Linked DNA regions of Homo sapiens: all the other regions are linked to region 1. Evidence: fine-mapped expression QTL. A gene starts in region 1. Each other region holds a variant in brackets. All regions are shown on one strand. Distances are between the middles of the regions.

Region 1 (7,573 bases):
CTGCACCCATGAACCTCAAAAGTACAGAGTAATAAAATATAAAGAGAGAAATGTCCAACCCTAGTATACTAGAACTGTAGGTCATTCAAATCCCACAGTGAACTATTTTTGTTCAAATTATTTAAAAAAAGAAAAAGAAAAAGAAAACTCTGATAATCTGACAAAAATTTTTAGGCATAAGTGTAGGGCCTGGGGAGAGTAAATTTCCTTTACGGACTTCTTAGATCCCAAAAGTATCCTGTATCAATTACATAGAACCTCATTTTCTTACTGCTCAAAGCAATGCTTCCATCGCTCACTATTTCTTCTCAAATGTGGGAGTCCTTTGGGGGCAGTGGTTAAAAAAAAAAAAAAAAGCCACCTTAGCTAGAGTGGGCAGCAATGGAAAAATGGATAAGTGTTTAGTACTCCCAGGAAAGCTTTATGATGAAAACGAAACAGGGAAGAGTCAGGAACCTTTTCTGGCTTTTTAAAAGTCTTGACTTTTAAGTCAAGAATCGTGAAGCCAGTTATTTATAACAACCAATGTTAAAAAAAATAGTCTATAATGTCTGCAAGAACGCAGGAAGAGGAAAAACTCTGCGATGTATGACTTCCATCATTACTGAAACGCATCTCCAGCAGGACCTGCTGTTTGAGGTTCAGGATGGATGTATCCCAATGGGAAATGGGAAACAGTTCCCACCTCAGCAGGCCTCCACCGGCACTTCTACAGCAACACACATCAGAACAGAGTGGATGACCACTCTCTATTCCAGGATGGGGGCTGCGAGACCCCCGGCTCGGGGCAGTGTTCTGCACCGGCCCAAGAATGGGTCCTGCAAGCAGTAAACTCTTTGGTGGGGACCTAGAGGGTTGGCGGGGGGGGAGGGAAGTGGAGAAGTGCGTGGGTGTCTCCCACTCTCTTGCAGGCAGGCAGCTTGGTCCCAGCAAGAGCAAAGATAAGATCTGAGACGGTATTTATTTATGGAAGGGAGAAAGCAGAGTGTGTGCAAATTTAATGCTTAGTAGGGAAAAAGCAGGAGACCTCCTATCTCCAGGGCGGGCCTAGGGAACAATTCCTGCTGAGCAACAACGCCTCTCCCCTCCCCCACCCCACTTACCCGCTCAACTCCCTCCCCACCCCCAACAGCCTCCCCAGGAAACGAGGCCACATTTAAGCCTGTTTTCTCCTTTTCTCCGACCTGCTGGAACATGGGTTCTTTCCCTTGGTGTAGACACGCTAGTAGGTCTCCCAGTTCCCTTCTCTACGGTGCAAGAGTGGAGGGGGGATGGAGAGTGGTGGGCAGCGGCAACCGAGCCAGATCCAAGAGGGGTCGGCCTCGTCTAAATTGGTTTCCCACCAATGGCCTCGGATCAGCCGCGGCTGTGCTGCGGGAGCCCTCAGGACGCGGCTGGGGTTGGTGCGCGGGGCCCCGGAACCCCAAACCCGGCTCGGTTCGGCAAGGTTCAGGGAGACAAGGTAGAGAAGGCTGGGGTGAGCGAGAAGTCGGGCGGCCGATCGTCAGGGCCACGAGCCTCGCCTTGCCTTCTTGGAATCCCACCCAACTTTAAAGGCCCAAAGATCCTGAAAATTCCGAAAGCGAAACTGCGAGCTGGTCTCCAGAAGTTTGAGAACGGTCTCCCAGGCTTTCCAGCGTCGTCCCGGGATTCTCGGACACCACAAACGCCATCAACCACGAGCACCGGTGTCCGTGGCTATTGCCCCGAATGGTCCCCATCCGCGTCCCCGGGAACTCCCTCGGCTTTTCGCGCATCCAGGTCCCCAGCCCCAGCTACTGGTGCGCCCCGAGCCCCTAGGTGCCAGAGCGGTGGTCGGCCGGGCTCCTGCCCAGTCTCGGCTCCTCCCTCCTCCCCACCAGAAGGAAAAACTTGGGCCCTTCGAGAACCCTGTGGAATGTTCTTTGTAATCAACTGTACATCCGCTTCCACGGCACGGCCTCGTGCAAAATCGCGGGTTTCGGGGCCTTGGAGCAAATTGCGCTTGTCAGCGGCGACGTCAGGAGGACAAGGGGAGGGGTTCGCGGCTGAAACTGCAGCTTCGCAGCACAGAGCCATTTTAGGCTGCTCCCCACCTCGCGGGGCCCATGGGAAAGCCGGCCCCGGGAGGGCGCGCCCAAACGCAGGCTGGAGGAGCCACGGACGCGTCCTGGCCGGCGTGTCGCCATCGTTCAGCCTCGCTGCCCAGGTGGGAGGGGTCACCTGCCGCGGGGTCTCCAAGCCAGTGCCGCTTGCTCCCGGCCCCCACCCACTGACAGCACGGCGTCCGAGTGACCCTGTCTAGCCTCGTTCTGCGCTCCTGCAAACCACGTTGCTGCGCTAACTACAAACCTGGCCAACATGTCTTTGTAACCCTATCATTTAAAAACGCTTCCAGGCACCTGGCCGCTGCCAGATCAGGTTCGCGGGCCCGGAGGAGGTCCTCCCACCTGCCCCCGCCAGCCCCGGGGACCGTGCGCGGCCTCCGTGTGGCCCCCGCCCACGAGGTCCCTCGGGCAGGAACCGCCGCGCGACCTCTGTTCAGCGGCCGCGTCCTGGCCACGGGCGACCCCTGTCGGGAACCCTGTTCCCGGCTAAGCTGCGTTCCCGCATTCCGGTGGCTCTCACCCGAGCTCGCGTTTGCTGGCTTTCCCTCTGGCTCCTCTGCCTGACCCCGATTTTGTCTCCGAACTCCACTCCCAGATCCTCCCCGCCCTGGAACGCCGACCTTTCCCCCGCACTTCGCCGCCCACTCACATCCCCCGGCGACTGCCCGGCCTCCATGCCCGCCAAGACAAGAAGATGCCCCTCTCCGATGCGCCGAGAGGGTTCCTAAGCCGAGCAAGGGACAATTTCTTCCCCAAACGCTGTCCCCATCCCCCACCTTCCCTAGAGCGCGAAACCCAAAAGTAAGGAAGGCAACCCCTCGCCTCGACCCTACGTGCTTGTCTCCCAGAGCCGCGCGCTCCCGCCCTTCTGCCCCACCCCACCACCACCACCACCACTTTGGTCTTCTCCAAGCTTCGGTCCCGGTCCCCCACCTCCCACCCCAGAGCGGCGTGGAGGAAAGCAGGAGCCCACTATTAAGTGCAGCGCGCCCCCTGCACACACGAAATCCGGCTGGCGTCTGCAGCCCGATTGCACCCAATACCCGGGACAGTTAGTCCTTTTAATAAGCACCTCCTCGCCCCACCTACTCGGGGATCTACCCGCGCAGGATCCAGCACACACAAGGCGAGAGCTAGCTCGTCTCCTAGAAAGACAAAATAAATCACTCCCTCTGCCCTCATGTACTTTACACCACGTGTCCGCAGTTTGTCACGTCAAATCATGGCAGGGTCTGGTTCCAAGACGCACACACACATTCGGGGTGGTTCTCTTTGACACACACACCCAAAAAAACTGCGCACACGCAGGCCTGCACACTAATCCACAGGCACACACGACAGTTGCGTTTCGGTGCCCTGGTCCGGGCCAGGGGCACTTCTCCATCCCTTTCCCCCCTAGCAATGGACTTGACACACAGACTCTAACCACGGAAAAAAAAAACCGGACAGCCCATTCCTTCTTTTTTTCCCCACTTAATTCGCTAAAGCGCTTCCTGGGGTAGCCAAAGAGAGTCGAAACTAAGGGGTGGAAACTTCAGCTGGGTTTTTTCCCACCTCAAAACCTTTATTTTCAGTTTTTAAAAGCCACCTTAGCCCGCCATATTGAAACTGGCACGGTTTCTAAAGACTCCTTCCCCGCAGTTGTGGCGCTTCCAAGAAAACACGAGTACGGATCAGGCTCTGGATGAGTGTCCGGCCACCGAGAATCAGCCACTTCCCACCCTCCAGGATCCCCCAGCTCCCTCCAGCCCCTTCCCACCGCCCCTGGTCAAAATCAATAAATACATCTCGCAGTTCCTACAGTTGCATTTTGGCGGATTTCTGCAAAACATACACACACATACACATACCCACGCACGCATATTAAAAAATAAACTCCAGAACCAGCTCAAGTCAGCAATTTTGAAAGGGGGTCGAATAAGAGGAGACAACCGGAAAGCCCCTAAGTGACAGGATATTACTTTAAAGAGAAAATAATGAACAAAAAGACCATCCTCGCTGGAGCACGCTCCAAAACTACTACTGCCAATTTTATTTCAGTTGCTCAGGCAAATGTTTCCAAGGGAGCGATTCCGAATGTCTGCACGATTTTTACCCCCATGCCGGTCTCCGATTCCCCGTCCTCACCATCTTTTTCTCCCACCCAAACCAAAAGAAAGGGGAGACCCCAGCGCGGAGGAGACGCGGGAGCGCGGGGTAGGTAGCAGCGGCGGCTGCGTCGCTAAAATGAGTGCAGAAACGAGGAAGGTGGGCGGCGGGAGGGGACAGGCTGCGCCCGGGGAAGGAGGACACTTTGCAACTCCGGACGGACTCCCGCACGGCTCGGCTTTTCCGAGCCCGGAGACGCAGGCGAAGGGGACCCGGGAAGCAAAAATGACAACCTGGAGCGCACAGAGGAGTTTGAAGCTTCGCTCAAGTGCAGTCGCTTTCTTCTCCTGCCCTTCTCTTTCGCTCCCCTGCACCCTCCCCAGCCTTCCCCCACCCGCCACCTCCAACCCCAGCTCCCTCAGGCTTCCTTCCTTTTTTTTTTTTTCCTTTTTTTTCCTAGGCTGGAAAAAGCCCCTGACCAGCGCACTCAACCTGCGGGCCGAAGGGCTGCTCTCCGGCCAGCCTGGGCGCCGGGGACAGCAGCCGGCGCGGCGTCCTACCTGGTGAAGTTCGTCCTGCCCTCGGCGTGGACCCAGGCCCCGGTCGCCGCCCGGGAGGGCACCGGCCTCGCTCGCTTGCTCGCTCGCCCGCCCTTGCCCGCTCGCTCCCCGCCCGCCGCCTCCCTCGCGCGCCCGCTCCGGTCCTCCGGCTCCCACTACAGCTCATTCCAATATGGCATCCTCTCTGTGCGCATGCTCGGCGCTCTTTTTTTTTTTTTTTTTTTTTTTTTTTTAAGATTTTGTGTGTGTGTGTATGTGTGTGCGTGCGCGTGCAGCGAACTCCTTCAACGACCTTTTCCAGCGCTTGCAAAATTTCTTAAGCCAATTAGCCTGCGGGACGTGATCGGCTCCTTCCCCAGCCAGCTCCGCGCCATTCCCTGCGCCTAAGCAGGCGGGCACCCCCAGGACCCTGGGACCTTCCACGCCCACGCGGCCTCCTCCCCACCGCGCTCCCCTTCCTCCTTTTTGTGAGCTCCCTCCATACATGATCTGCAGAAAGTTCCCATCGCGGGCGTTTCCGCACACCCCTCCGCAAGGACAACTGGGCAAACTCCCGTTTCCCTGGCTGCGGTTCGTGAGCTGGGTTTCCAATGGCTCAGTCGACCGTGTGCACAAACTTGCGCTTTATCCGCCGGGGATCGCTGGGAGCGGAGATAAATTCAATCCCCAGGGCAATCTTGGCCCCGCCCGCCCCACCCCATCCTGTGCTTAAATAGAGCCTTTCTTGAAGCTGCGAACATTTCCAGGCCCCTTGGGCAGGGCTGGAGGGGCCGAGGAGAGCTATTCGAGGGAAAGGTGCCCCGAGGGGCAGGAAATTAAGTTGGGGCTGCCCGGGCGAGCTGCCAGGTAGCCGTGCTCGCCACGGCGTCTCATGGGGCACCTAGCTAGTGGCGGGCCTCATAGGGCGGGAAAAGAATCGTCGCTCACACCCCAGCAAAACGTGGCCCTCGACGGTCCGTTGGAGAGCCCCGGCGGCCGTGAGCCCCGGGCAGGGCTGGACGTCTGCGGAGCCCTCGGGCACTTTGTCCCGGGCGCCTGGGGAGGAACGCGGAGCTCCCAGGGCCTTAGGTGCAACGGCTGCGCAGAGCCCAAACGAAATGTCCCCAGTGCGGAAAAGCCGGTGACGCCCTGGTAGCAAGACCAAGAGCTTCCGAAGAACGCTGCGCCCTTAACTAGGGGGCCTCGCAGAGATGCCTGTGTGGGCCTGCATTGTATATTTCTGCGAAATAGCGAATGGACACGTTTGCTCAGGGTTTTTATGGTTGCCAAAGGGGGTAAAATTACCCAGTCCCCCAAATCTGTGTCCCATGAATCCCTCTCATAGTACCCCTCTCCAGGGGGCCAAGAGGTCCTCCAGGTCCCCGTGGGTTCGCAGCTCCACCCGCCCTTCCTCGCCCTGCATCCCTAAGGAGAGGTGTCCGCTCTGAAGGGCTAGGGGCCAGCCATGGAGTGAGGGGACCGGGGCTGACCACGCGCGGCACAGACAGAGGTCCTCAGGCGGGCCCTCTCCTGGACGGTGGGGCCGGAGCTGATCTAGAAGAAATACGGAGGGACGTGCCGAGAAGCCGCTCTCCTTCGCCGCGACCCTGGAGAGCGCCTCTCCACCCAAAGGATCTGCCGAGCTGAGAGATCCAGGGCGGGCGTCCGCAGCCGTGAGGCCCCCTGCGCCGCCAGTATGGGAAGATCCTGCCTCCTTACACCTTGGAGAACGCTGGGCGACGACTAAAGCGCCTTCCGCCGGCCTGTCACTCCATGTGACACAGGAGCCACGTGAGACCCAGAAGAGTCCAGCGACTCGCCGCGCGGCGCACTTTAAACTCTAGCCTGAGTCTGCGACCCCTCCAGCTCTCCAGTCCCCAGCTGTTGGGGACATCAAGCCGGAGCCCTGGGCTCTCTGCCCTGTGGGTCGCTGAAAGCAGAGACTCCTCAAACCAACCGAACCGGGCGCATTAACCCTCTCGCCTGCACCCCGCTGCCTCCCGGTTGAGCCCCGAGGCGGCTCCAGGTAGAACCTGCTGGACTGACTGCGGCGTCCAGAAATCTGGAGTGTGGGCTCCAGACACTCTCCACGGTTTGGCCCCGGGTCTCAACACCCAAGTCGCCTCTTCTGGCTCCTTCACCACACAGCGGGGCCTGTGGAAAGGGAGGGGCCGAGAGACCCGTCGGCGCACCACTGTCCTCGAGGGGTCCCCACCCTGTGCACTGCTGAAGCGCAGGGCGCGCCGCGGCAGGAATGGCCCCGAGTGCGGATCCCCTGCCCTGAGCCTCCCACTCTTGGCCCGCGCTGCGCCTACCCAGTGGCCCTGGCCCCGCAGGGCGACAGCGGCTGCTCCCTCCCATTTGCGTCCCAGACCGCGCGGCCTCGCTTAGCTCCCGGGAGCCGACAGGCGCTTGCCCTGGTGCCAGCGCAGGGCTTCCCGGGGGCTTGGGGTAGGGGTAGGGGTGCGGGGGGGAAGGGGAGAACGTAATTTCCTTCTGCAGGAGTCGTGGAGACGTGAGCTGCAACCAGCCACCGCGCTCTCTCCAGGCTTGTTTACCAGTTTTAGGTCATCATTGTGCACGAAACATTCTTTCATCCAAATAAAAGCAAATGCAGAAGAACACCTGATCCCAAACAGTGTATGACTGCGTTCATTATCTTACCTGGTTACTCCGAAGGAGTTGAATTTTTTTAATGTTTTGGGTACGTAGACCCCGTATAATTTTGCTCCTGGGTCCACAAAATGGTGATTTTGGGGGAGGGTTACCTATCGTGATTAAGAAATATAATCAGGAAGTCGCAGCACACAAAGGTGGCATTGTTATTGTAAAAAAAAACTCCTTCCCTCCTATTTTTGT
Region 2 (7,573 bases), 99 kb after region 1:
TTAGTCTGATTCTTACCTATGGTGAATCAAGGTACTTAAATTTATTGGGAAAATGATTTCAGTATAACAAGTAAAAATTTCAGGAAGTTACCAATACAGGCCTCCTCCTCTTCCTCATTTGCCTCCTCGTCTTCCTCCTCTTCCTCCCTTTTCCTCCTCCTCCTCCACCTTTTCCACCTCCTCCTCCTCCACCTCTTCCTCTTCCTCCTCCTCCACCTTTCTCTTCCTCCACCTCTTCCTCTTCCTCTTCTTCTTCCACCTCCACCTCCTCCTTCTCATCCTGCTCCTCTTCTTCCTCCTTCCTCTCCTTTTTTGTCTCCTTCTTTTCCTCTTTGTTCTCCTCCTCTTTCCCCTCCTCCTCTTCCTCCTGCTCTTCCCCCTCCTTCTCCCTCTCGTCTTCTTCCTTCTCCACTTCTTTCTTCTTCATCTCCTCCTCTTTCTTTTAAACTCTTTGCCCTGAGAACATGTTACTCAGAGGCAGTGGGTTCAGTCTCCCTGGATGGACAGGGCACTTGATCCTTGTTTCTGATCCTTGCTAGGGGGAGGGGAAAGGCTCTGGTCCTCAGCTGGTGGTTGCTCTCTTCCCCTCCTTCCCCTTCTTCTCTCCGGACATCTTTTCTCCCCCTTTCCTTTTTTTCTTCTTGTCTGTACCAGATGTCCATGACAAATCACGCCCAGGCTGTGTTTATTTTCACAAATAGGCATCACTCATCTGACCATCCCAAATAGGTTCATTTTTCTTTGCATTATCCTTACAATGATAACCAGTTTAAATCCCCAGGAAGAAAGGACGTCTGAGGGGTTATCCTTCCCTTAGTGACGGAGAGCTTACAAGGCATCTGCTTCTCTAGGAGCCTCATCATCAAACTTCCTCTGTGATCATCATACAGTTTCATAGAACAGATCCTGCAGGAGGAAGGTTTAGCTCAGCAACATCCCTTTCAACTCACAAAGACGGGCTACAGAGAAGGAGAGGCTGTGCCTAGCAGGGGAAATTGTGCGTCCTAAGGCCGGGGGTCCACGGCTGAGCCTGGAATCAGGACATGGACCATGAAAGGTTTGCAGGCCATGGGAAAGGGAGTGGTTCCTGTCCTAAGGGCAACATAAAGCCACTGGAGTATTTTAAGCAAGGAAACAGCATGACTACCTCTGTATTTCATAAAGGTCCTGCTGGCCAATGTGATCATGGAGAGATGGGAGGAAAGCTGGGGTGTTGGGGGGAGACCAGGAGTCTTGCTTGCATGGAGCTAAGAGCAGTGGACCTGGGGACAAGAGAATGGATTAAAACATGGTCCAGAGATAGGACAGGCAGGCTTTTGGTCAATTGGATGAGGGTGCTGAAGTAGACACAGCAACCATGAATGACTTCCAGGTCTCTGGCTTAGGCAGATTAACTGGTGGTGCCATTTGCTGAGATATGGAACATGAAAAGAAGGACAGATTTGGGGAAGAGAAGGGATGAGTAGATATTGCACTTGTGCAGTTGAGGGGTCTGTGGGACATCCCACCAGAAGTAACTGGTCGGCAGCTGGAGCGAGAGTGTGGGGTTCATGAGAGAGCTGGGATGGTCCCTAAAGCTCTGGTATTGATGAGTTCTGAGTGTGTGTGGGATGAAAAGAGTTACTTATTAATAGATAGGCCCTGGAGGAGGTCAATATTTAACAGATGGACAGAGAGGCAGGAAGGCCTACATGGGTTACCAAACATGAGCATCTGGGGGGCTTAGGGGGCTAAAATCCCACGCAGGGGTATTATCTCTGAAACCAAGGGAAAATCATGTTTTGACAAGAAAAGTAAGTTGAACAAATTTGACTGAGAGGAAAGGTAAGACAAGGACTGAAAGTGATGAAGTGGTTGTTTATAACCTGGACAAGAGGCTCATGCCTGTAATCCCAGCACTTTGGGAGGTGGAGGCAGGCAGATCACCTGAGGTCAGGAATTCAAGACCAGCTTGGCCAATGTGGTGAAACCCAACTCTACTAAAAATACAAAAATTAGCTGGGAATGGTACCACGCACCTGTAATCCCAGCTACTCAGAAGGCTGAGGCAGGAGAATCGCTTGAATTTAGGATGCAGAGGTTGCAGTGAGCTGAGACTGCTCCACTGCACTCCAGCCTGGGCAACAGAGTGAGACTCCATCTCAAAACAAACAAACAAACAAAATAATAATAACCTGGGCAAGAGAAGTTTCATTGAGGTGGAGGGGCAGATGTTGGGGGATTTGGGATGGGGGCCAGATTGTGGCAGACTAAGAAGGATGTAGCAGGAGCAGCCCATGCAAATTGTGACTTCAAAGTGGAGCAGAGACTCCAGAAAGTAGATAGAAGATGAAGTTGGGTTGAGGGAGATTTAAAAAAAAAAAAAAATAGAGGCTGGGCACGGTGGCTCATGCCTGTAATCCCAGCACTTTGAGAGGCTAAGGCAGGAAGATCCTTTGAGCACAGGAGTTCGAGACCAGCCTGGGCAACATGGTAAAACCCCGTCTCTAAAAAAATACAAAAATTAGCTCGGTGTGGTGGTGCATGCGTGTGGTCCCAGCTACTCGGGAGGCTGAGGCAGGAGGATTGCTTGAGCCAAGGAGTTTGAGGCTGCAGTGAGTCAAGATGGCGCCACTGCACTCCAGCCTGGGCTACAGAATGAGACCCTGCCAAAAAAAAAAAAAAAAAAAAAAAGAACATTTTAACTTGAACATTTTAAAAGATAATGGAAAGATGCTGGGAGATGAAAGATGTGAAGTTC[A/G]GAAGAGAGGCCCTTCTCGATGAGGCAGAAGGTGCAGGTGGACGGCTTCCTCAGAGGGGGTGGGACACCTTGTCTGTCGTCACAGAAAGGAAGAAGGAAATAGGAGGGATGCAGCTGCAAGCCTGGGTGTTGTTCCGTGGCAGGAAGTCGAGGGGGCTCGGGGCCTTTATTTACTCTGGAAAATAGAAATCAAGACAGTCACCCAAGAGCAGGGAGGCTGTGGCCTGGCTGGAGCCCTGTGGCGGGAAGGAGAGGCCCAGGATGTGGCTGGAGGCCTGTGGAGGGAAGGAGAGGCCCAGGATGTGGCTGGAGGCCTGTGGAGGGAAGGAGAGGCCCAGGATGTGGCTGGAGGCCTGTGGGGGGAAGGAGAGGCCCAGGATGTGGCTGGAGGCCTGTGGTGGGAAGGAGAGGCCCAGGATGTAGCTGGAGGCCTGTGGAGGGAGAGAGGGGCCCGGGGCATGGCTGGGGGCCTGTGGAGGGAAAGAAGGGGCCCAGGGTGTGGCTGGAGCCCTGTGGAGGGGAAGAGGGGGCCGAGGCCTGGCTGGAGGCCTGTGGAGGGAGAGAGAGGCCCGGGGCATGGCTGGAGCCCTGTGGAGGGAGAGAGAGGCTTGGGGCATGGCTGGAGGCCTGTGGAGGGAGAGCAAGCTGAGCGTGGATGCAGGCACTGAGGAGGAAGCCTCCACCAGACTGCACAGCCAGGCTCTTCTGCAGCGCCCTTAGCCCTCCAGGCAGGAGCAGGTAGAAAGAAGGCTCCATCACGGGGTCCTGTGTGACAGGGAAACAAAGGGCCAGGGAGAGGTGCAGAGGGTAGTGGAAGTGGCTGATGATGGAAGCTATGCTGGAAGTGGAAGGAAACCAGGATAGGAAGGAACTCAGAAATAAGAAGAAAGCAAAGGTCTCAGAAGATGGCAGGTCCCACTGAAGCTGAAGAACCAACTGTGGAGGCTGGCGAGAGTGCAGCCAATAAGATCTGAGGGAAGAGACAAAGATCAGAAAAATGCATGTGAGAGTGGAGGGAGGGAGTAAAGGAAAGTGAGTGCCCAGAGGTGCAGACTGTCACGTCATGTGAGTTACTGGCCTTCATTTTGGATTTGCACTTCTCCATGGTCAAGGGGTTTATGTGGTTGAAATGTCTAGCCAACCACGACAAAATGCACAAGTTACTGCAGAAGAGAGGCTTATTTTTCTGGTCCTGGAGTTAAAGACTTTCTGCCGTGGCCTCCCAGTGAGAGACTCCAGGCCCCGTGGTGGACAGGGTCCCATCCACACTGCAACATTGAAGTCATAGCCAGGTGGTTTTTAAACAAATCTTTATTAAAGCTCCTCTATGTAGTTTAATCCATAGAAAAAATTCCTTTGAATTGATTTTCATTCGCCTTTTACAGATGGGCAAACAGGCTCAGAGAGGTTAAAAACTTGGCAGGCTGGTGAATGGCAGCTTGAGAATTAAACACAGACCTTGTGCCCACAGGTTTACAGCTCTGTCCGTTGCTGCTCCCTCAAGGCCTTCAATCAATGATTCGTTCAGCCTCTATATTTTTATGATTATTACTTAAAAATAGACCTTATTTTTAGAGCAGCTTTATGTTCACAGCAAAATTGAGAAGAGGGTACAGAGATTTTCCCTATACCTCCTCCCTCCACATATGCACAGCCTCCTCCAACTATCAACGTCCCTACCAGGGTGGCACATTTTTTACAATTAATGAACCTACATTGGCACATCACCATCACCCAAAGGCCAGTTTGCACTATGATTCACTCTTGGTGTTGTAAATCCTATGGGTTTGGACAAATGTCTAAGGACATGTATCCCCCATTATGGTATCACACACAGTGGTTTCACTGCCCTGAAAATCCTCTCCCTATTCATCCCTCCTCCTCACCAACTGATATGGTTTGGCTGTGTTCCCACCCAAATCTCACCCTGAGTTGCAATAATCCCCACGCATCAAGGGCAGGCCTGGTAGAGATAACTGAATCATGGGGGCAGTTTCCCCAACAGTCTTCTCATGGTAGTGAACAAGTCTTATGAGATCTGATTGTTTTATAAATGGGAGTTCCCCTGCACAAGCTCTCTCTTGCCTGCCACCATGTAAGATGTGACTTTGCTCCTCCTTTGCCTTATGCCATGATGGTGAGGCCTACCCAGCAATGTGGAACCATGAGTCCGTTAAACCTCTGTCCTTTATAAATTACACAGTCTCAGGTATGTCTTTATTAGCAGCATGAGAACAGACTAACACACCAGCTCCTGGCAACCCCTGATCTTTTTACTGTCTCCATAGTTTTGCCTTTTCCAGAATGTCGTATAGTTGGATTCATATGGCATATAGCTTTTTCAGATGAGCTTCTTTCACTTAGTAATATGTATTTAAGTTTCCTTCATGTCTTTTCATGGCTTGATAGTTCATTCCTTTTTTAGCACTGAATCATATTCCACTGTCTGGATGTTCCATAGTTTATTTATCCATGCACTTACAGAAGGACATCTTGATTGCTTCCAAGTTTGGCAATTATGAATAAAGCTGCCATAAACATTGGTGTGCATGGTTTTGTATGGACATAGATTTTCAACTCCTTGGGGTAAATAGTGTAAGAGTTGAAGAAAGAAGAAACACAGAAAGTGGCTCAATAGTCAAAGACAGATTTATTTTGGAGAATAAACCTGAGAAGGGCTTCTGGCCAATTTCAGTTAGGAGTGCTCTCTCTTACAGACTAAGGGTATTTAAGGGCTTTAGGGAGGGGGAGCTTATCACAGGCTCAGAATGTTTCTGTATGAAGGAGAGTTTTATTGTAGGTTTGGAATGTCTCTGGTTGGAGTTGGGGTTATCTCAGGGTTGGCATGTTTCTGGTCGGAGCAGGTTTTCTAAGGGTTGAAATGTTTCTGTTCATGCTGACATTAGCCATCAGGCTGATGTTTTGGGGCTGGATTTAGGGGAACTTAAAATGGCAGTGTTTGTCCAAGATGGCGATGCTCCTGATGTGTCAAATAGGAAGGGGCACAATTGCTGGATCCCATGGTAACTGTATATTTAGCTTGGTGAGAAACTGCCAAACTGTCTCCAAAGTGGCTGCACCATTTTGCATTCCCAGCAGCAGTGAATGAGAGTTCCTGTTGCTCCACCTCCTCACCAGCAATTTATGTTGTCAGTGCTCTGGATTTTGGCCATTCTAACAGGTATAATATAATAGTGTGTAGTGGGAACTCACTGTTGTTTAATATGTATTTCCATGATGATATATGAGGAGGAGCATCTTTTCATATGTTTCTTTGCCATCTGTGTGCTTTCTTTGGTGAGGTGTCTGTTCAGATATTTTGTCCATTTTTAACCAGGTTTTTTATTCTCTTATAGTTGAATTATAAGAATTCTTTGTATATTTTGGATAATGATTCTTTATTAGATGTGACTTTTGCTATGTTTTCTCCCAGTCTGTGGCTTGTCTTCTCATTCTTTTGACAGTGTCTTTCTCAAAGTACAAGTTTTAGTTCTAATGAAATTCAGCTTCTCAGTTACTTCTTTCATAGATCATGCCTTTGGTGTTATATCTAAAATGTCATCACCAAACCCAAGGTCATCTAGATTTTCTCCTATTTTTTATGGTTTTGCTTTTACATTTAGGGTCTATGATCCATTTTGAATTACTTTCACACAGGATGTATGGTCTGTGTCTATATTCTTTTTCTAAAAAACATGTGGATGTCCAGTTTTTCCTGTAACATTTACTGAAAAGACTAGTGCAGTGTTCTGATTTTTTAAATACCTTTTTCCAGAAGACTTCCTTCACTTTAGTCAAGAAAGGACATAACACCAACACACAGTTCCGGAAAAGCTGTTTTCTGCAGATAAGGCTAAACGGCATGATCTAATTATGTCTGATGTTCTGGGTCTGTCCTGGGATAAAATCTAGAGTATTGGTTCCCCAGACTGTACCACTGATTAAAATCATCTGGCACACGTCACTCCTGGCTCTGCTTCTGTGTTCTGCCTCTTCGCCGTGTTTCCAAGATCTACTCCTATTCCAAGGTCTTGAACACCATCTACTCACTCCTCAGTGACTTCAGCTGCACATAGACGCCTAGGACAGTGCTTGCCTTTATCACTCACATAGTATAGAATGTTTCATGATACTTGAAGCACAAACTCCTCTCTCTCCTACTGGAAAAGATAACTATCTCTCCCACTCAACTATGTTTCTTGGTGGCAGGGACAATATCATTAATTCTTTGTATTCAATACAATTCTTAGTACAGAACACACACCTTAATACAGCAGTCCCCAACCTTTTTGGCACCAGGGACTGGTTTTGTGGAAGACAATTTTTCCACAGACAGTGGAGGGGAGATGGTTTCGGGATGATTCAAGTGCTTTACATTTATTGTGCACTTTATTTCTACTGTTATTACCTTGTAATATATATAATGAAATAATCATACAACTCATCATCATGTAGAATCAGTGGGAGCCCTGAGCTTGTTTTCCTGCAACTAGACAGTCCCATCTGGGGGTGATGGGAGACAGCAACAGATCAACAGGCATTAGATTCTCATAAGGAGTGCACAACCTAGACCACTCACATGTGCAGTTCACAAATAGGGTTTGCTCTTGTGTGGGAATCTAATGCTCCTGCTGATTAGGCAGGAGGTGCAGGTGGACAGCTTCCTCAGAGGGATAAGGGCAACTTGTCCGTTGTCACAGAAAGGAAGAAAGAAATAGGAGGGACGCAGCTGCAAGCCCGTGTGTTGTTCCATGGCAGGAAGTCGAAGAGGGTCTCAGGGACAGGAGGTGGAGCTCAGGCGGTAACATGAGCCATGGGGAGTGGCTGTAAATA
Region 3 (7,573 bases), 73 kb after region 1:
AATAAAGACAAATCCATCACCAAGCCACCTTTAAATTTCAGCGATACTGAAAGTTACCAATTATGAAACCATTCTCCCTATAGAAAAAATAAAGCAGATGTTTTATCTCAGAATAAAATTCGTTTTAAAACTATTTCCATCCTGCCTTAGACTTGCCTATATTATTTAAGTCATTAAAAAGTACCAAGGGCCAGGCGCAGTGGCTCACACCTGTAATCCCAACACTTTGGGAGGCCGAGTTGGGTGGATTACCTGAGGTCAGGAGTTCGAGACCAGCCTGGCCCACATAACAAAACCCCCTCTCTTGACTATTTTTAGTAAAATACAAAAATTAGCCGGGCATAGGGGCTCATACCTGTAATCCCAGCTACTCAGGAGACCTAGGCATGAGATTTGCTTAAACCCAGGAGGTAGAGGTTGCAGTGAGCCAAGATCACGCCACTGCACTCCAGCCTGGGTGACAGAGTGAGACTCTGTCTAAAAAACAAAAACAAAACAAAACAAAAAAACAACGATAAAGAAAAAGAAAGAAAACAAAAAAAAGTACGACGAAAAAAAATAAGACAGGAGATATTAATTCACGTAGCCAAGACTCAACTGTTTCTCTTTTTCCTGTGGATAAAACTGCAGAGAGGCAGTGATGAGAGAAAATCTACTCTAGCTCTCCAAATTTATACGACCCCATTTGTTGGTGTGGCGAAGCAAGAAGAGGGGTTATTTGGATGTGACGTGTTGTCATCTGGCGAATTGTGGGGTTCCTATTCAGAAACATCCCTGGAGAGTCTGAATTGTGGGCTATGGACGCTGCATAGAGCCTCGAATTCACATGATTAGTCTTATTATCATTTTTTTTGTCTTGTGGCTAGAGAGAGGAGCAAAATTATGCCCCGTGGGTTGCAAGAGTTGTTCAGTCATGAGATGTAGCAGGGACCCGGGATGGGAAAGGGTGGGGATGGGAGTAAAAGGCGAGAGAGAAACCAGGGGAAATCAAGGGCATGTTGCAAACCAGCTGATGTGGGGTGTTCTGTAACTGAAGGTGGTACTGTTACCCCATTCTACAGATGAGGAAACAAAAGCTCAGAGAGGTCTAGTAACTTCCCATGGTCACACAGCCAGTGAGGGAAGAAGTTGGGATTTGGAAAACATGATGTTGGAAATAACAAGAATAAGTGAAGACACTGAGAAGGATCAAAATCCAACATGAACTAGGTGGTGAGGACCAGCTTTGTAATTGAGGGGGGGCTCTTGTGGCTGATCCTGATGGGCAGTGTTCAGACGGCCAAAGTTTAGATTTTAGCTCTGAATTCTATCTATTCAAGCATACAATGCATGTCTTAGTAAGAATGGCTTCAACTGGTATGCTAACTTTTTAGGTCCTTTCATTTTATTCTGACAACAATCCTTGCGGGTAACCCAGTACCTATTTTAACACTTTGCTTCAGAGTTAGAAGTTTTTATGAATTGATTTTATGGAAGAATTTTTGTAAGTATGTTTAAATGTTATGCCCTGGTTATCAAACAAGACCCAAGCCTAGTCAGGCCTCTTAAGCATGGAGAGAGATGAGCCTTCTCAGCGATCTGCGCCTTTAAGGAGGGCTCCGCTCTCCTGTCTGCATCCCGGTGCTGCATATAAATGGCCTCTGTGGCTTCAGCCTGCTTATTTCCATTCAAAGTGTACACTCTGCTTTTTCCCCAAAGTAAAAGCATTTCCAGGAGCGCCAAGCACATCTCTTTTTTGTAGACTTCCTCTTGGCAGAGTGAATACTGCTGATTTATAAATTACATGGAGGTGTGCAAAGGAGATCAAGGTTCAGTGGATGTGAGCCCACATATGGCACCTCCCACAGGCCCAGACGCTGCCCTTAATTCTCAGCTCATCGCTTCTGCCAACCTTGTCAGTTCTGGCCACTCAAGCGGCACTCTGATCAAAGCAAAAGTAGTTGTCTTCCTCTTAGAAAAGAGGAAATAGGGTTCTTCCTTTTGCAAGTTAACATACTCAAAGCATCATTTCCCTTGTTGAATTTTTCCTAATCCTTATTTGAAATAGGCTCCTATGCCTTCATAGGGGGCCATTTTCATTGGCGAAGAAATTGTCCTCTGTTTTTTTGTTTGTTTGTTTGTTTGTTTGTTTTTACTATCAGATGCAGAACTCTATTTGAATGAAATCTTTATAGGAAAGAGGACATGCCTTCGATGACCACATTCCCCTCCCATAATCTGATGCTAGAATGCAGTGGAATGCACATTGCTTCTCATCACAAATAGCCACTGAAAAGGAGAAATTCTTGGCATTGTGGACTCACTACTTCCTGTGGATAATTACTAGAAATATACGCGTGTGCATGCATGTATGTTGTGTATGTGCCTGTCCAACATGCTGGGTCAAACTTTTGGATCTTTGAATCATACTGACTATGTGGAATACAAACATGATACCGCACCCTGTGGATCGTCACAGTCTCCCTGTTTCTCTCGGCAATGCTGGCTGGTTGTCTCACCAGTTAATGAATGAAAGAAGAGGGAAAGGGAAGGAAAGGGGATGAAGAGGAAGAAGAGGAGAGATGGCAGGAAGCTCTGACATACACAGCCCCACTCACTGGCTCACTTTCCAGCCTCTGCTGTTATTCCTTCCTTCTGGGCTCATACCCTGGGTCTCCAGCCAACTGGTGATGAGAGTCCAGGGACTTTACTGCCTTTTCACCTGTCTGGTGTCTCAAAACAGAGAACTGCAGCCCAAGACCATTTTACCTTTGCAGTAGAATGTGAGAATTAAAACTGATCTCGGCTGGACACGGTGGCTCACGCCTGTAATCCCAGCACTTTGGGAGGCTGAGGCGGGTGGATCACCTGAGGTCAGGAGATAGAGACCATCCTGGCTAACATGGTGAAACCCCATTTCTACTAAAAATACAAAAAATTAGCCGGACATGGTGGCGTGTACCTGTAATCCCAGCTACTCAGGAGGTTGAAGCAGGAGAATTCCTTGAACCTGGGAAGTGGAGGTTGTAGTGAGCCGAGATCACGCCATTGACTCCAGCTTGGACAACAAGAGCAAAACTCCATCTCAAAAAAAAAAAAAAAATACTGATCTCAATTCAGGCAGGCTCTGTGGCTCACACCTGTAATCCCAGCACTTTAGGAGGCTGAGGAGGGAGGATCACTTGAGGCTAGAAGTTTGAGACCAGCCTAGGCAACAGAGCAAGACCCCATATCTACAATCAATAAAATAGAAGTTATCTCAATGCAATAGACGTGAGGAACAGCATGGTGGGACAGATCAAGTGATTTTTTTTCCATGGCCATCAGGACCAGGACAAAAAGCCTGTTCTTTGGACTTCCTCAGTCCTGTGTGACACCAGACTCAGGCTGCTTCTTCTCACCCCCTCTTAGCTCACCCTGGCCTCAGCAGCTTCATCCTGGCCTTGGGGACACCTGTCACACAGGGTGGGGACAAACACCACCATATTTACAGACACACCACAGCAGTGGTTTCCAACCACGGGTGATTTTGCCTCCTTGGGAGATTGTTCGCAATGTCTGGAAGTAATTTGGGTTGTCACAGCTCGGGGGAAGGGGTGTGCCACTGGCATCTAGTGGGTAGCAGAAAAGCCCCCTGCAACAGAGAATCATCCAGCCCCAAGCGCCAATAGTGCCGAGGTGGAGAAACCCTGAACTTCCCAACATCTCAAGGTTGTTTCGCCAAATCCAGAGTCAGATCTTCCCCGGGGTTGGTTTTGGAAGGTGCTTTTGCATATCTGTGGATGGTGAGAAGTTCTGAGACTGTGGGGACTGCTGGGCAGGGTGGAGGGAGAGTTAAAATATCTGGGCTGGAGAGTCCTGGCTCCAATCTTAGCCATCTGTGAGCTCAAGAAGCCACTTTCTGTCTCAGGCCTCAGATTGCACTGGAAGATATCTCTGCCCCAGTGTGGTCGGGGTTGTGGAGACTTGAAGCCGGTCCGGTGCAGCCCACAGAAAATGCTTTGGAAATGTCTGAGCACCTTAGGTGGGCTCGGCCGAGGCTGACATTTCGAGTACATGACAGTTATTGGCTTTCACACCACCTGGTCAGAGCCCAGCCCCTGTGTACAAGGACACCCTGACCAGCCTTCATCGGCCCGTTACCCACTCACTGCTCAACTCCACTCTGAACAGGTGGGGTGAGGTCTCAACACTCCCCTGCATATAGCCTGCTGCGTTCCCATATTCTCTACTAGCAACTATTTGTTTTACCTCCACGCTCTTTCCTCAACCCCCAATCTCTGTCTTCGTAACCATCAGGAACAATGTCTACGGTTCATCCACATCCCAGACCAGACACTCCATGATGGCAGAGCCATGGGCCCTGGACTAGTCTCCTCCTAGTGTGGCAGCAAATCCTCACAACCATGATGAAACCTTTCTAGTGACCACTCTGAAAAGGATGGCTCTCCTGCCCCATGTCATCCCCAGGCCCTGACCTGAGCCACTCCCCACGCATCTCATTCACGCCCTGTTGGTTCCCTGATACCCTCTGACTCAAATAACTCTTCTTGGAGGATCCTTGAAGTTTTTTGAGAATTGCTGTTCAGAATAAGTTATCTCTACTAGAAATGTCTTGAGGTCCGTGAATAGGCGTCTAGGATGCATTACGCATAGGAGATGCCCAACAAATATTTGCCACCTCGACTTGGTAAACAACAGGCCCAACAGATGTCATGGCATCGTATTTCTCTGTGTTGTAATTGGCGTATGTCTCAGGGGTGCAGTCGCTTTTTAGTTTCCGTCATTACTGCTACACGGATCTGTTTCTCACTTTTTCTTA[T/C]CACTGTTAGTTCCTTGCCATTTCACCAGAGAGTTATAGCAGAGAGGAAAAAAGAAAACAAAACTCAGAGAAAAAAAGGATGAGATGGAATCCAACCAAAACCTCAGTGCCACTGCTGACCCCAAATCTGAATTTAAAAAAATAAAATAAAATAAATAAAAAATTAAAAAAAAATTCTCTGGTCCAAAACTTTTAGTTATTTTTTTTCCATCCCTCAGAAACACTAACTTAGAAATTAAGTGGTAAGTGATTTGGCTTTTCTTTTATATATTTTAAAATATATAAACATGGACACATTCTTTGGGAGCTTTAAGTCTTTTAACTCAAAGGAGAATTAATTTCAGTAAACTGCCGTCAACGTGGTGGTTGTGAACGACAGTCTGTTTATGTGCAAAGCCGTACTTTTCCATTGAGTCTATTCTTTGAACTGATAAATCTCACCTGAGCAGAAACCACGGCCACAAAATGTCACAAGCAGAGAGCACAATGCTGCAAGCACTTAGCAGCTCAAAGTTTTTACACCTCGGCTCTACAGTAGCAGCAAGATTTTCACTAATTGTGTGGGGCCCCAGGATGTGTTTTGGTTTTGCAAGGTTTTTTGCAGACTCTGCCTTCCTGTTCCTCTGTCTCGGTGTGCTCTCACACACACACAATGCAGAGGACAAGCGCACGTCTTTACAATTCAAAACCAGAAAAGACCAGAACATTTTTAATTAGTCTGAAAATAAATTTAAAAAAATAGCAGCTCTGAAAGATGTGTTCCTCTATCTCTTTCCTCTGGAAGGCTGCAATTTAATATGTTTATGGGGAGAAGTGGTCCCTACAATCCCAAGAAAAGTAAGGGGGAGTTGGGGGAGTCTCAACCCAATTATTTGGCAGTCAACTTTGCCCCTCCAATAAATGAAACTGCAAAGCTGTCTTTTACAGGATACCCAGGCACTGACAGCAAACTGCAGGACCACAGTTTCACATCCATTCCCTGGGGGCATGATTTAAACCCAGAAACCTGTCATCAGGAGGGAAGTGGAGAGCGGCTCCAGGACTGGCTGAGAAGTGATGGTGAAGGGTTTTTGTCTCCCTTTCAACCCCGTAAACCTAAGTGAACCCGATCTCTGATTGATTATTAAACACTTCGCATTCAATGGCTGAAGGACAGTCTACTCGTTAAATCAGTGATTCTTAGCAGAGCTATTTCTGCTAGATGATATTGTTGGGTGCTGGGAAGGAGGTGCCGATAATGAGAAGGAAGTAGCCATCGCAAGTTGGCAAAACTCCCGAGGAAGTTTAAAAAAAAAAAAATAACTTCCGTCAGCATCATTGCCTGCAAAATGGATGCCATTCTTTTTGAGATTAAGGAATCCAGTGAACAAACACAAGTCAATCACATTTACTACGGAAAACAATTACTCAATTCAGCGAGAGGAAGAATAACATCTACCGGAGTTCTAGCCTTCCATTCTGAAGGGGCATGGAGAGGGGACGAGGTTTCTTCCTCATCTCAGATGGATCCTTTGCAGAATTCATGCTAATGAAGGTTAACCTGTTTCTCTTTATCTCTGTCATGAGTTATTAATGTCTGGTATCAGTTATTTGCAAATTTTAAACTATTTTGCACAGCAGCACCTAACACCATGGTATTTTGTCTAAACAGGGATTTCTTGGTCTTCACAGCACACTTGGTGTGCCTACGGAAGGCGTCATCGTGGTTATTTACAAGATGTGTTTTCTTTCCATTTTTACGGTTTTTATTTTTCCCCCACTTCACTCGGAATAACATCGTCTCCTGTCTATCTGGGGATAAAAGATGATTACCTTTTTGTTCAGAATCCACTAAACTAATACACTTCTTCTGTTTGTTGCTAAGCAACCAAGCTGGGTTACCCGGAAGCAGCAGACTCCGCTGTCAGTCACCGGCTCCTTTCTGATAATTGACCATCAGAGAGTTTGCCTGGTAGGGGGAAGAGCTCGTAGTCAAAAGACTTTAGAAATCTTTTTAAAAATTCAGCTATCCAAAGGTTTGCCAAAGCGTTCTATCCTAGACAAACAAATGATGGCAAACGCACCTAATAGGTTACTAATCGGTAATAAAAGGAACGGTACGCCACACACAGGAATTGGGATGAAACTCAGATGCATTGGAAAGAATCCCAACACAAAAGAGTCCATCCTAGGCATTCTAGCTCATGTCTGTGAAACTCTAGAAAAGGCACATCGAATCTAAAGAAACAGAAAGTGAGGAAGGGCTGCCCGGGGCTGGGAATGGGCATCCCTAGAGACAGGGTGAAAGGAACTTGCGATGGTGGAAATGCGCCATCATCTACACCTTTATTTTATTTTTATGGATTTAGCGGGTACAAATGCATTTTAGTTACTTGGATAGACTGCATAGTGGTGAAGTCTGTGCTTTTAGCGTAACCATCACCTGAACGGTATAAATTGTACCCAATAGGTTATTTCTCATCCCTCACGCCCCTCCCAACTTCCCACTTTTTGGAGTTTCCAATGTCTATTCTTCACTCTGTCTGTCCATGTGTACCTATTGTTTAGTGAGAACATGCAGTATCTGACTTTCCGTTGCTGAGTTACTAAAAATACGGAACGCATCATGAATTTGCAAGTCATCCTTGCACGGTAGTCATGCTAATCTTCCCTGTATCTCTGCAATTTTAGTATATGTGCTGCTGGAGGGAGCACCCCATCATTTATATATTAATTGTGGCTGAGATTGCACAGATACAAATCAAAATGTCATTTAAATGGATACCTTTTATT
Region 4 (7,573 bases), 220 kb before region 1:
AAAGAAGAGTTAAGACAGTCTTTTTATTTTCCCTCAAGAAGATTCTGTAACATGCTGAAAAACATATTTAAATGTCTCTAGATGCAGAGAGGTGGAGGGCTTTTTTTTTCCTTACCCCTCTAAGATATAGCCTAATTCCTCCTCCTGTAATTCAAAACAATGCAGGTAAATTGAGCATATTTAAATTCATTGGCAAGAAAGAAATTTTCTCTTCCAGAACAGAAATGAACTACATGAGAAGCCATTTTTTTTCCCTGGCATAAAAGCTAGCAAATTTTTGCTTTTCAATACATGTTGAAGGTAATAATGATAGACTCCTCACAAGTTCAAATATTGCAATAATTTCTTTCTATAAAAGGTACGGTTGTTGGATAAATAGGGGAAAAATCACCCAGAGACAATTGTAGGTAACAGTGTAAGTTTTCGTTATATTTACAAGTCAAAACCTCTACAAAGACACCTTCATCCTCTCAAGTAAATGGGTCTTTACTCTTAGGAGGTGGAAAAAACAACCAGAAATCCTAGATGCCAAATGAGAGCAATCACACTGCCCTAGGGATAATCTCACATCCTCTCTTCCTGAAAACAGTCTTTATAATTGTGTACAACAGCTCCCATAATCAACCAAGAGGACTGAATGTCATATGTATATATGACATATATATACATACATATACACATACATACATACTATATATACACACACACACACACACACACACACACACACACATATATATATATATAAAAATATTTTATTTGTTGTAGAGACAGGGTCTTACTATGTTGTCCAGGCTGGTCTTGAATTCCTGGACTCAAGCGATTTGCTGCTTCAGCTTCCCAAAGTGCAGGGATTACAGTCATGAGCCACCACGCCTGGCCTGGACCAAATGTCTTGAATGTGAGTCTCTCCTCTTGTACGTTAATTTATTCATGACAGAAAACATGCCTTCCTTTCAGCTAAATGGGAAGATGCCAGCTCTCTCTCCTCCCATTTGCACCAAAGAAAATAGCAAAGTTGTCAAGATCTAAAAAGTTGTCATTTCACATCAGAAGGGAAGAGGTGACTCAACACACAGTATCAGAGCAGGAGAGCTCCCGCTGACTGTAAAGCTGTCATCATTAGCAGCTGCTTTGAGACGCTGCTATGATCTCGCACAGTTGAAACCCAGTTCAGACAGACATTTTCTCATTAGAAGTTGCTGTGTAAGAGTTTGCCATGGAACTTTTTGTCATATTTGATATAATAGGTAATATGCTGCCTTTACAATTCAGTAGAGCTGGGTTTCACCATGTCTGTTTTGATTGTATCAGGCTGGATTTAATAAAAAGCTCTGATCGACTTGGTAACATGAAAACTAGTGCAAACACTTGCAAAATGAACTTCCTCTCACTGTGGAGCGGGAGCGAGTTTCTGGCTTATTTAGAGGCAGGGAAGGTTTTAATGGGAGCTAAGATTTTTGTACTTTTATTATATCTGTGTCCATTAGGTGTACGTGGACTGTATTGAATTTTGCAGAAAAGTTTTAAAATAAGAAGGATTTCTCCATTATAAACACTTGCTTATGTTTTCTGCCCCCACTACTACTACAAACTTATAAGAAAATGTGCCACTACTGCTAATGATCTCTTTAAAGCAGAAAAATATGAAATATTAGAAAAACATGTTTTTCTCTGAGCTATAGGTGAAGCTCACTTAAATATTTCTTGAGAAAGAAGGAAATGATGAAATGTAGCAGCATCGTTAATTGGCCTGCCATTTTCTGCAAATAAACCCTCTTCTTATTTACATATATTCTCTTCCACTTTGGTGATTTGGCAGATTATGATTAGACCATAAATAAGTTTTACTGAATCTAAAACCCCAGAGCTGTTCAAAAATGACACCAGGAATGCTAAGTGGATTGCTGGCAATGAATGTTGAGTGTGGCACAATCTCTAAACATCTTCAGTCACAGTACTAGTATAAGTTAACTATAGAGGAAAATATTACCGATCATACAAATTATTTCATATTTCTCAATTTTCACTATGAATAGGGCAGGTGCCTTCTCTAAAGGAGGCTTAGATATCCTCTAGCCACTGAAAACTGTTTTACTCTTTTAAAAAAACATCATTTCTCAAATGTTACATCTCAATGACCATTAAGAAGTCAACTAGTAAAACCTATTCTATTTGAAACCCATAGATGAATATTAAAAGTCCTCTCAAGCACTCTAAACAATTATTCAACATAAAATTATCTTAGAAACGGATCTTTTTCTATGTGCCTAAACAACCAAGTTCAAGTACATTGATACGGCTCCTGCTCTCAATTTCAGAGGTCAAGAAACCTAAAGAAAGCAAAAATGTCACCTTTCCAATTAGCCTATTTCCAAATAAAAGAAAGTTACTTGACTCCACGCCAACCCAGATTTTGCTGCCATTTACTTAACCCAGACCAAACATGCACGGGTTCCTTTTATCTTTGAGAACTGTCAACTGCCAGAAAAGAGAGCATTTGCATTTAGCATAGTCTATATAATATCAAAAATGAAGAGCTGTTTATGAACATAGTATAATAATGATGAGGGATATCCTCTTTACAATTTTCCCCCTTTTGCTCAAATAACCTATTGGTCCTGAAACATACCAAGTTTTTATGATGCTGAATGTTTAGCATAATAAAATATTAGTTAAGGAAATCTCTACTTCACCTTAGGAATCCTAAGGCTTAAGGCAACGCTGTATGGCAAAAATGCCAAGAAATTTACGTGTCGCCCATAGAACTGCAGAACGAACGTCCTTCAGTTTGTTCCATTTCTCAGGGCTGTGTCACAAAGAGAAGTGGCAAG[G/T]TTCAAAGTAGCATGGGGAAGTATTACAAAAACCCTTGCTTTCCAGAATTGAAAACACTTACTTGGCCTTCAGCGTCTCTTCCTGGAAATTCCAGTGGGGATCTTCTACCAGCTGTAATTCTCTTAATACCCTTCCAGGCTTGTAGGCTGCGTTGATTATCATGCTAAGAACCTTTTGGGGAAAAAAATAAGCAGACTGAGCTGCAATTGCATTCATTCCTACTAACACAAGGATGCTTTGAAAACCACACCACTGACATTTAGGAACAGCTCGCCACTACACCCACATGAAGTGAAGAAACGTGATTAAGTCTGATAGAACACTTGCCAGGCTAACACTGAGTTGTTTCACCATCCATGGACAAAAAGCGTGGTAAAATACAATCTCTCTGGCTAGAAAAGTGTGAACCACTCTCTAGAGGGGGTGGCAGACTCCCATTAACTCTTCTAGTTGCAGAAAAGCTGAACCATTTTCACCAAAGAGCAATTTATTGTACTTCAACAGGATTACTCTTCAGTTGGATAGGCTACTGAGAATTTCATTCTATTTTTACAGATTTCATAAGGAACTAATGAAACGGAGACAATCTACTCATGCCAACACTTCTGGAGAGGCTTCACATGCTTGCAAGGAGGGTAACAAATTGTGTGAAACTCTCCTCTTGCAGGCTCAATTCATGGACATTTAATACTAGGGCAACCCTCTGAAATGTGAATATTTTAAAAGAGAGTCTGGAATATCCAGCGCCATCCAGTATCATATTTCCCCCATCCACCCCTCACTCCCAAGTCCAAGAAAACAAGCATGTGTCTACCATGGGGCTCAGAAAGAGCAGGCATTTCTAAGAGTTCCAGCTGCTGACCCTGGGGAGATACGATGTTCCTGTTAACCTCAATGAGTTTCTCTAATGAAAGGGACAAGGACCTCAGACCCCTAAGGTGCTCACCTTTCAAAAAGCAAATCATCATTAATGATTAACATTGATGAGTTCTGGCACATTCCTGGGCTGCTGCTGTTTGGATAAAGACCTTACAGAACGTGAGAGTGCAAAGCAGAGGCCTATGGTGTGGAGTTTCATGAAATGATCCTCTGTGAAGCTCCACTGAGTGACAGTAGCAGGAACAAGACGGGGGAGCACGCAGTGCCCATGCCTCCTGCAGGCCGTCCGGGTGCGGAAGTTGGAAGGAGCACGCCAGGCATGGAGCTCACATTTTGGATTTCAGAGCAAAATACCGTTGGGAGAGCAAGAGATACACCTGAGTGAGATGGGAGTCTGGCACTAGTGCCTAAACACGCACTATCTTTTAATGGAGACTATTACAAAATAAATGGAAGGAGATGGGAGAATGTGGATGGAATTTGCTTGTCACAATTTTCACGGGTCTGTTGTGTTCTGGAACGTAACCAGCTTGGTTTGCACCCTGATTTATTTGAAAACAACAAAGCTTTCTCAAGTTGTAACTAAGGATTCACTCTTAAAATACTTTACACTACGCGGTCAGCCCGGCGACGGCCTTTTCTCTGCCTGGGTAACATCTTGCTATGTTCCAAGGGCCTCAAAGCCACCCACCAAGAGAATGTGGCTTGCCAAGGTGCTAAAAAGCCATGACAAGGCGGTACCGGCAGTTTTGTTGCGTTTGTGTTTTCTGTATTAGAATAATCATCTGATTTTATTGTTTACTGTCAGTACAATTTACAGAAACTCAGTTTAAAAATAAATCTAATTAGTACTGACTGCAATAACGCACACAGTGTTTATCAACAGACAATAAAATTTCAACAGATTCTTTTCATTGGGTTTCGCTGAGAAAACCCCAGAGCTGCATGTTATTTGCTGCATATCGAGATGCATTTTGTGACTGCGAAAAGAAAATGCCTTCTGGAGTTCAATTCAGCCTGGGAGCAGGCAGCAATTAAATTATGAAAAGCATCGGATATTGAATGTTTTTCCCTTGGCTTTTCTTGATGCCACATCATCCGTCTCCAAATTCAACAAGCTCTCTATAAAACTTTGGAATTGTGAGCTGAATAATTTCTGTGCACATGACAATGTCATGTATTATAGTTACCTAATGAAAATAACTAAGTGGACAGCTGCTATGACTAGCCACAGTTAGACTGAATTATTGTGCTTTGCAAAACACTGGAGTTCAGTTCATTATGTGCTTGATCAGAGAGGGTAGCAGGGAGCCTGCCCCTGCCCCCAAACTAATAGGACCTTAGGTGTCTCATCTTCCTCCACTGATATGGTTTGGCTGTGACCCCACCCAAATCTCACCTTGAATTGTAGCTCCCATAATTCCCATGTGTTGTGGGAGGAACCTTGTGGGAGGTAATTGAATTGTAGGGGTGGTTTCCCCCATAATGTTCTCGTGGTAGTGAATAAGTCTCATGAGATCTGATGGTTTTATAAGGAGTTCCCCTTTTTGCTTGGCTCCCATTCTCTCGTCTGCTGCCATGTAAGACGTGCCTTTTGCCGTCTGCCATGATTGTGAGGCCTCCCCAGCCATGTGGATCTGTGAGTCCCTTAAACCTCTTTTCCTTTATAAATTGCCCAGTCTCAGGTATGTCTTGATCACCAATGTGAAAACGAACTAACACATTCCCCCACCTCATTTCTCAGCTCTTTTACAGTAAAATCCTTAAGAAGAGTCTACACTCAACAGCGCCTTTTCCTCTTCTTCAGTCCTCTCTGGAACCCAATCCAATGGGGCTTTTCTGTGTCCACAATGTCCCTGAAACTGTCTTATCCAGATGCCTGGTGAGAGCACATGGCCGAAACGCTGGGCAGCTCTGGGTCTATTCTCACCCTGCCGGCAGGGGCTTCCCTGTCTTCCACCTCACGCTCTGAGAGCCTCACCTCCCAACAACCGCCAGGGCGATCCTTTCAACAGGTCAGATCAGGCCTTTCCTCTGCTCTGTTCTTCTCTTAGGATTGTTCTTCCTGGGGAAACCCTTCCAGACCATCCCTCCCCATCCGGGTCTTTACTCCAAAGTCCGTATCAGAAAGGTCTCTGCGAGTATCCTCTGTACACAGCACATTCCTCCCTTCATTCTCTGGCCTCTCATGGATAACTTGTCTTATTATTAGTATAGGATTATTCCGTAATTGGCTTATTTGTTCACCATCCACCCCCACTAAGACATAAGCAGCAGGAAATCAGGGACTTCATTCTGTTTGCTGCTGTATCCATGGCAGATACAACCATAACTGGCAAGAGTAGGTGCTCTATAGATATTTTTTGAATTAGTTCAATAATTTCAATATGGGCTCTGAAATTAAATTATTCTGTTCATCTAAAAATTAACAATAAATTCACTCCAAGTATTTGATGCCATATAATCTACATGAATGGAGGCTCAGGAGTTATCATTTGCTATTGCTTTTCATTGCTACAAAATCTTATCCTATGCTATGATAAGAAAGTTCATCAAATTTATCTTGTCTTCTCTATGAGAAAATAATAAAGAAAAGCCTGACATGCAAAAAAAAAAATGTGCACTTTTCCTTTGCCAACCTTCCCTCAGCACCCCAGACCATGTGAGTGTGTTCAAGTTCACACCCACCCGTAAGCCTGGCACATTATTCTTAGTGGGTTAACTAATGTTCAGCATAAATTGAAAACAGCAGCAACAAAAACACAGCACAGTATCTTCAAGAGGCCTGTCTGCATCTGTCTTTGATTCCGAGGACTGACTTCGCTGAGGTCAGCTGGGTAAGACATTCCCTCTGTCCAATATCACATGGAAAAGTCCTCAATACGAGATCGTCATTCCTACTCCCTCAACACCTCCTCCCCTGGGTGTTACCGATAAACTTACGACTGCTTCGAAGAATGAAAGCTCTTCTCCTACCACCAAGTCTATGAACACTGAAGGCTGCTTGGGGCAGCCGACTTTCAGGATTCCGACCAGAAAGCTTTCTAGTTTTTAGGTACATGTTGTTGTGAGTGATAGCCCAGGACAAATGCTCAGAGCTCCACAATGAAGGGGAAATTCAAACAGCACATGACAGACTCCCCAGATGTGAGAACCAGACACCCCAAACAAAAACACGGAGGGAAATCGCTTAATGCATCAGCCACAGGGGCAGAAATCGAAACCGTAAATAACAGCTGAGGCCAAATCCCAAACCGCCAGGTCCCACTGGAAAGATCCCAAACTGCAGGTGACCAGGAGCCAGAGTCACCTGAGCCCTTTGGGGGTCGGAGGTCACATCACTATTTGCAGTGGGGCGTCTCTGACTCAGGGCCGGGGGTCCGGGGCACACCGCATTCTGGTTCAGGGGTGCCGCACTACTTCTTTGATTCTGCTGGTCTACGCCTTCACACCCAGTCTTTGGACCTCAGCTGAGTGCCCTGGTCTCACCAGCATCTCAGCAAACGGGGTGGAGAGTTACACTGGAGCAAAAAAACAAGCCCTGAGAAGCGCCTCATTGCAAAGCATCCTGGGTGCCAGGCTTCCTGGGGCTTTCTCTGAACTCTTAAGCACCAAAAGAAGAAAAAAGAGAGCAGAAAATCAGGCGTTCTATTTCTACCTTTCTATAGAAGGTTACAGCTCATCGATTTCCTTTCTATAAACGTTCCTCTCTTAAGCTCCTGAACCTGGACTGCCAAAAAGCAGCACACAGGACAGGCCAGGTCTGCTGCCGAGCAAACACAAGTGGAGAGCCCCTGCCTGCTCAGCACCCCTGAAGCTCATGCGGAAAACCCACAAAGGGGTGCCCACAGATGGCCCA

Evidence for each region.
Region 2: its variant is fine-mapped to the expression of SFMBT2 in whole blood (TOPMed, PIP above 0.99).
Region 3: its variant is fine-mapped to the expression of SFMBT2 in whole blood (INTERVAL, PIP 0.99).
Region 4: its variant is fine-mapped to the expression of SFMBT2 in whole blood (TOPMed, PIP above 0.99).

The regions. Positions count from the first base shown.
Region 1 is chr10:7,406,126-7,413,698 of GRCh38, forward strand. It overlaps SFMBT2 (Scm like with four mbt domains 2), which reads right to left and starts at 4,909. Exons shown (of 21, transcript NM_001387889.1): 1 at 4,736-4,909. RefSeq lists enhancers at 1,784-2,679, 2,727-2,806, 5,158-6,078, 6,079-6,998 and silencers at 2,227-2,566, 4,783-4,922.
Region 2 is chr10:7,505,147-7,512,719 of GRCh38, forward strand. No RefSeq gene overlaps it. Among named protein-coding and RNA genes, the nearest start is that of LINC02642, 36 kb to the left of the region's middle. The variant A/G (reference allele first, on the strand shown) is at 2,741.
Region 3 is chr10:7,479,315-7,486,887 of GRCh38, forward strand. It overlaps the pseudogene RNU6-535P. Among named protein-coding and RNA genes, the nearest start is that of LINC02642, 10 kb to the left of the region's middle. RefSeq lists an enhancer at 1,543-1,782. The variant T/C (reference allele first, on the strand shown) is at 4,802.
Region 4 is chr10:7,185,728-7,193,300 of GRCh38, forward strand. It overlaps SFMBT2 (Scm like with four mbt domains 2), which reads right to left. Exons shown (of 21, transcript NM_001387889.1): 16 at 2,897-3,006. SNORD129 (small nucleolar RNA, C/D box 129) reads right to left here and starts at 1,057; the gene lies at 953-1,057. The variant G/T (reference allele first, on the strand shown) is at 2,835.